Linked DNA regions of Homo sapiens. The protein of the gene in region 1 interacts with the protein of each later gene in a pairwise test. Each region holds a gene or a part of one and is shown in the gene's direction. Other genes may lie near its edges.

What was found. The genes of interacting proteins can lie anywhere in the genome.
Region 2: the proteins of PPP1R37 (region 1) and HNRNPCL2 interact in binary tests that used the Homo sapiens proteins (3 or more experiments, as listed by UniProt).

Annotation. Positions count from the first base shown.
Region 1 is NC_000019.10:45,145,047-45,147,806, forward strand, and holds the end of PPP1R37 (protein phosphatase 1 regulatory subunit 37), read left to right. Parts: intron 1-47; coding exon 48-214; intron 215-306; coding exon 307-1,003; intron 1,004-1,343; coding exon 1,344-1,426; 3' UTR 1,427-1,434; intron 1,435-1,524; 3' UTR 1,525-2,239; downstream 2,240-2,760. UniProt on the Homo sapiens protein: Inhibits phosphatase activity of protein phosphatase 1 (PP1) complexes.
Region 2 is NC_000001.11:13,114,929-13,118,597, reverse strand, and holds HNRNPCL2 (heterogeneous nuclear ribonucleoprotein C-like 2), read left to right. Parts: upstream 1-1,743; 5' UTR 1,744-1,805; intron 1,806-2,016; 5' UTR 2,017-2,197; coding exon 2,198-3,079; 3' UTR 3,080-3,110; downstream 3,111-3,669.

The DNA of each region.
Region 1 (2,760 bases):
CCAGCCGGGTGTGGGGCCCGTGGCCAGCCCCTGCGGTGCCCCCCCAGGCGCGGTGGCGGTGGCGGAGTTCATCGCTGAGAGCCCCCGCCTCCTGAGACTGGACCTTCGGGAGAACGAGATCAAGACAGGCGGGCTCATGGCACTGTCGTTGGCCCTCAAGGTGAACCACTCACTGCTGCGCCTGGACCTCGACCGTGAACCCAAGAAAGAGGCGGTGAGCAGGGGACGGTCCTGCAGCCCTGGGGCGGGCGGAAGGCCGGGTGGTGGGGCCGGCCTGAGAGCCCTAGCCAGGCGCTCCCGCCACAGGTGAAGAGCTTCATCGAGACGCAGAAGGCGCTGCTGGCCGAGATCCAGAACGGCTGCAAGCGCAACTTGGTGCTGGCGCGGGAGAGGGAGGAGAAGGAGCAGCCGCCACAGCTGTCGGCCTCCATGCCTGAGACCACCGCCACCGAGCCCCAGCCCGACGACGAGCCCGCCGCTGGGGTGCAGAACGGGGCCCCCAGCCCCGCACCCAGCCCGGACTCAGACTCAGACTCGGACTCGGATGGGGAGGAAGAGGAGGAAGAGGAAGGGGAGAGGGACGAGACCCCCTGTCCTGCCCTGGTGCCCCCCACGGACTCCCTGGGCCCTGGGGACAGGAGTCCCCCAGGCAGCCCCTCCACACCCACCGAGCAGCGGATTTCCGTGTCCAGCCCGGGCCGGGGCCACAAGGTGTTTGTGGTGACCCGGGTGGAGAGCCCGCCCGAGAGGGCAGAGCCCCCTGCGTCCCCCACCCCTCCCTCTCCCCCACCCCCTCCCTCCCCACCCGCCTCACCTTCCCTACCACCAGCCGGGGCCATTGACACCCGGGACACAGGGTCCTCTGAGCCTCAGCCACCACCGGAGCCGCCTCGGTCAGGGCCACCACTGCCCAACGGCCTGAAGCCCGAGTTCGCCCTGGCACTGCCCCCTGAGCCGCCCCCGGGGCCTGAGGTCAAGGGGGGCAGCTGCGGCCTGGAGCACGGTGAGAGGGGCCCTAGGGCAGGTGTTGAGGGGCCCTGGGTGCTGTATGTGACCCCAGGCAAGCCCCTGCCTGTTGTGGACCTCAGTTTCCCCCTCTTTAAAATGGTTCTCGCAGGGGCCAGCAAAGTGGGGCTTAGTTCTCATCTCCACCCTGCTTCCCTTGGGTCCTGGGAGCTCTTCCTGGGGTGGGGGGGCATGTAAGGTGTGCTGCCTTGAGCCTGACCATCTCAGCGGTCTCTGGGCACTCTGCAGGCCCTGAGGGTCTGGCTGGGGCCGGGCTGGGGACAGGTTGTATTTGCCCCACCCGCCTGACGGGGGTGCTGGCCCGTCCTCCCACACAGAACTGAGCTGCTCCAAGAACGAGAAGGAGCTCGAGGAGCTGCTTCTGGAAGCCAGTCAGGAATCCGGGCAGGAGACACTGTGACACTTTAGGTGAGGCCAGGCCCGGGGCCCACAGCACTCGGGAGGAGCTGAGAGAGCCTCTGGCTCTGACAGTCTCTCCCCCAATCTCTCCTCCCCAAGTTCCCTTTTTCCGGTCGGTCTGCGATGAGCTGAGGCCAGAGCCATGAGAATCTGCTCACCTTCCCCCCAGCCTTCCTGAGGCCCAGGATGCCAGGGGTGGGGGCCATTCTGGGGCCCCCCTCCCCCCACAGCAACACTACAAGGGGTGCAGGAGCTACAGGGAGTGGCCCTCCGCGCGTGACTCAAGCACTTCTATTTATGAGCCCAGCACTGGAAGACTCTGGGGGTGAATGGGAGGAGGGGGAGCAGGAGGAGGAGGAGGTCTCCAAGGACATCAGGCGCCTGTTCTGGAGGGGCCAGGCTTGCCCTGCGGAGGGCAGGCGTCCTGGGTGGTGGTGGGATGGTCCCCTGTGGCCCCGGGCACAGGGCCGGGCAGGCAGCCTGGTGCCGGAGAGGCGGTGCGTGCTGGTGGTGGTTGAGATGCACAGAACAGCCCCAGACAGCGCAGGCCGGGCAGGGTGGGGGGATGGGAGCAGAGGATCAGAGCTTTCTTTTTCTCAAGTGCAATAAATCTATCAGGGAGCTGGGGCGGGAGCAGCCGGCACTCCGGGACCCTGCTGTCCAGGCCACTGGAGGCTGCGCCCTGAGAGGCACTACAGCCCTTTGGGGGCGAGTGGCATGGGTGTGGGTGAGGGTGGGCAGAGGGCTGGGGCTACTCCTGTCGGTGCAACTCTGTTCACACCTTTTCTAATAAACTGGGGCTGGGTTCACTTTGCCCAACGTCTGCTTCGTGCGGATCCTGGAGGTGGTTGCTGGGGGTGGGCTGGGTGGAGGCCATCACAGCTCCTGGTTACAGAGCATCTGCCAGGGCACTGGTCAGGCATTACTGCGTCTTCCCCCACAGTCCCGTCTATTCTGCATCCATGCTCTGGTGTCTCGTACGGTCACCTCCCAGCCAGGCGAGTTTACACCCATCCTTTCTGCAGGGAGAGACAGGCCCCAGATACCTCCTGGCTTCAGGTCTAGGGTCTCAGGATGCTGGATATGGAGTGGCTCTGCCCAGTCGCCCATCGCTCAACAGGAACAGATCCCAGCCTGTCCCTGGCAGCCCCAGGTGTTGTGCAGGTGGGAGTATGCCCCGGGCCCAGCCAGCACTGCAGGAGCCTGGTGGGCGGCTTGTTCCCCTTTGCCAGCAGGGGCCTGGGGGGCCATGGGGGTGCTGTTGCGGATTTCTGAGAGGTCTGTTTTTCCCTTTAGGAAAGGGGGGAGCAGGCCGGGCATGGTGGCCCACACCTG
Region 2 (3,669 bases), on another chromosome or scaffold:
GAGGATTATACAAATTGTTTTGAAAGACTCAACCTTGGTCCTAAGAATCAAAAGTAAAGGGGCATCAGTGAAATGTTGGATAGATTCCACCTCCACCCCCTCAGTAACCCCCAACATGTTTACCAAGTCTTGGTTAACTCCCAGGATCCCATTAAAACACCCAGCTCAACCATGCCCATCCTCTACCCTCACTTCTCTTTGTAATTTTGACATGATTTTATTACAGGACCATCAGGTTCCTATGCCTGCTGCACAGTAGCTGACCAATATTCTGAGACAGCAGTGTTTGCAGCAGACAGTTTAATGATCACAGGGTGGCTAAATGAGAAGCTAGGAGGATATCCTCAAATTCATCTCCCCAAGTAGTACTGAGGGTTTCCAGTGGATCCTGGATAGCAAGGGGCTGGAAAGTTGGTGTAGAGGTAAGAGGGATGAAGTCATCAGGATGTCAAAACTGCATTCTTTGGTGAGTTGGTGCCTTGCAGAGCCCTTCAGATCAGCTGGCATCAGTAGTTTCACTGACATGCAGAACCTGAAAGAATATCTCAAATGAGAAAGTTAATGTTTTACAAGGCTTAAATTGTTGTCTGCAGGGTAGTTAAGGGGAACTGTAAGCTAAGGTCTACTTGATTTGGGGACAGTAAGCTGCCAGCAACCATGAGGAAGAAGGTCAGAGAGCAAGCTGACCTCATGGTGAATGCTGAATGCGCTGCAAGCTTGGTTTATTTTTGTTTCTCCCCCTCCCTTCTTCACTGATTAAACTTATAAAGTTTACAGGTATCATTTCAATTTCTTCCAGAGAAGACTTAACCTAAGCCCTGAGACCACTCAAGCCCTCAGTGGCACCTCTCTTCCACCAGCACGAGTGAAGAAACTGCTACCTTAGGTGATATAAAACCCACAAGACCATTCCATACATGGAGATCTTTATTCTTATTTTGTAGGGACGACTCCTCTGTGTTTATACAGCTATTTTAACTAGAAATATTTTTATAAATTTTATAATTTTGATGTGGCCAAAGATCTCCCCACAACACTACTTTCAGGTTTTATTTTTCTGTCTAATGTCTGGAACAGATCAACCCCTTCCCTGCCTCACATCAGGACTTGAAGGCGAAATAGCAGTAAAATTCCATCAGTGTTTGTGGATTTCATGAATGAATGCATTTTTTTTGACAAAATCTCCCTCTGTCGCCCAGTCAGGAGGGCAATGGTGTAATCTTGGCTCACTGCAAACTCAGCCTCCAGGGTTCAAGGGATTCTCCCACCTCAGCCGCATGAGTAACTGGACTACAGGCAGCCACCATCGTGCCTGGCTAACTTTTCTATTTTTGTAGAGACAGGGTTTCACCATGTGGGCCAGGCTGGTCTTGAACTCCTGACCTCAGGTGATCCACCTACCTTGGCCTCCCAAAGTGCTGGGATTACAAGTGTGAGCCACCTCACCTGGCCTTGAGTGAATGAATTCTTGATTTCCACTCTATCCCTAACTCTGTCAATTTCTTAATTCATAAAATGATTATGCATATGTGATATGAATGGATATCTCGTTCAATCCATTAGTCTTCGGACAGTCAAAAACCCAATCAGGATTAACTGAGTGGAGCTTCAGAAATGCAATCAGATATCGCTTTTTGATTGGAAGCTAGCAGCGGATACGTGGAGGGGCGTGGGTGGGAGTTGTGATTAGAAAGGTCAATAAAAGCTTCTAAAGACCCACAGGACAAACTCAAAGTCTTCAAGCCTGGAGTTCCTGCTTGGCTCTTCCTGAGGTCTGAGCACCTTCTAAACTACAACCAGATCTGGTAAGTCACTAATTTCTGTAAGGACACTCCCATGTGACCTACAGTCAGCCGGTCTAGAACGGTGACAGTGCAGCCTACGATGGCATAGAACTATATCATGTCTTTTTTTCTTTTTTTCATATGAACACTTTGAAGCTTTGATTTTTTTTTCTAAATGCAATTTTGTCGTGATTTCAAAAATGTTGTTGTGCTTTTCTTTACATCATTTCAGAATTCTTGTTGGCAGCCATTTTGTGAAGAGACGAAGACTGAGCTGTTTTGGCTGCATTTCTGGCCTCGAGCCGCAGTCAGTTTCTCCCCGTAGAACCCGGCAGTAGGAGACTTAGAATCGAATCTCTTCTCCCTCCCGCCTCCTGTTTTTGGCTTTTTGAGAAACCTTATCATCCAACACAATGGCCAGCAACGTTACCAACAAGATGGATCCTCACTCCGTGAACTCCCGTGTGTTCATTGGGAATCTCAACACTCTTGTTGTCAAGAAATCTGATGTGGAGGCGATCTTTTCCAAGTATGGCAAAATTGCGGGCTGCTCTGTTCATAAGGGCTTTGCCTTCGTTCAATATGATAAGGAGAAAAATGCCCGGGCTGCTGTAGCAGGAGAGGATGGCAGAATGATTGCTAGCCAGGTTGCAGTTATTAACCTGGCTGCAGAGCCAAAAGTGAACCGAGGAAACGCAGGTGTGAAACGATCCGCAGCGGAGATGTACGGCTCCTCTTTTGACTTGGACTATGGCTTTCAACGGGATTATTATGATGGGATGTACAGTTTCCCAGCACGTGTACCTCCTCCTCCTCCCATTGCTCTGGCTGTAGTGCCCTCGAAACGCCAGCGCATATCAGGAAACACCTCACGAAGGGGCAAAAGTGGCTTCAATTCTAAGAGTGGAAAGCGGGGATCTTCCAAGTCTGGAAAGCTGAAAGGAGATGACCTTCAGGCCATTAAGCAGGAGTTGACCCAGATAAAACAGAAAGTGGATTCTCTCCTGGAAAACCTGGAAAAAATTGAAAAGGAACAGAGCAAACAAGAGGTAGAGGTGAAAAATGCTAAGTCAGAAGAGGAGCAGAGCAGTAGCTCCATGAAGAAAGATGAGACTCATGTAAAGATGGAGTCTGAGGGGGGTGCAGAAGACTCTGCTGAGGAGGGGGACCCACTGGATGATGATGATAATGAAGATCAGGGGGACAACCAGCTTCATTTGATCAAGAATAATGAAAAAGATGCTGAGGAAGGAGAGGATAACAGAGACAGCACCAATGGCCAGGATGACTCTTAAGCACATAGTGGGGTTGAGAAATCTTATCCCATTGTTTCTTTACCTAGGAGCTTGTCTAACAACAAATTTTTCACCAGATCCTCTCCCTTAGTATCTTCAGCACATGCTTACTGTTCTCCCCATCCTTGTCCTTCCCACATTCATTAATTCATATTGCCCTGCGCCTAGTCCCATTTTCACTTCCCATGACACCCCTAGTAGTTTTCCTAAGTCTTACCCTGTAATTTTTGCTTTTAATTTTGACACCTCTTTATGACTTAACAGTAAAAAGGATGTATGGTTTTTATCAACTGTCTCCAAAATAATCTCTTGTTATGCAGGGAATACAGTTCTTTTCTTTCATACATAAGTTCAGTAGTTGCTTCCCTAACTGCAAAGGCAATCTCATTGAGTTGAGTAGCTCCTGAAAGCAGCTTGGAGTTACAAGTATGTGTGTTACACCCCATATTAGTGTGCTGTGTGGGGCAGTTCAACAAAAATCTAACAATGTATTTTTGTGAATGAGAGTTGGCATGTCAAATGCATCCTCAGAAACATAATTGGTGTTATAGTCTTCAAATGTGTTTTCTAAAGTTGATACCGTGGGTTAT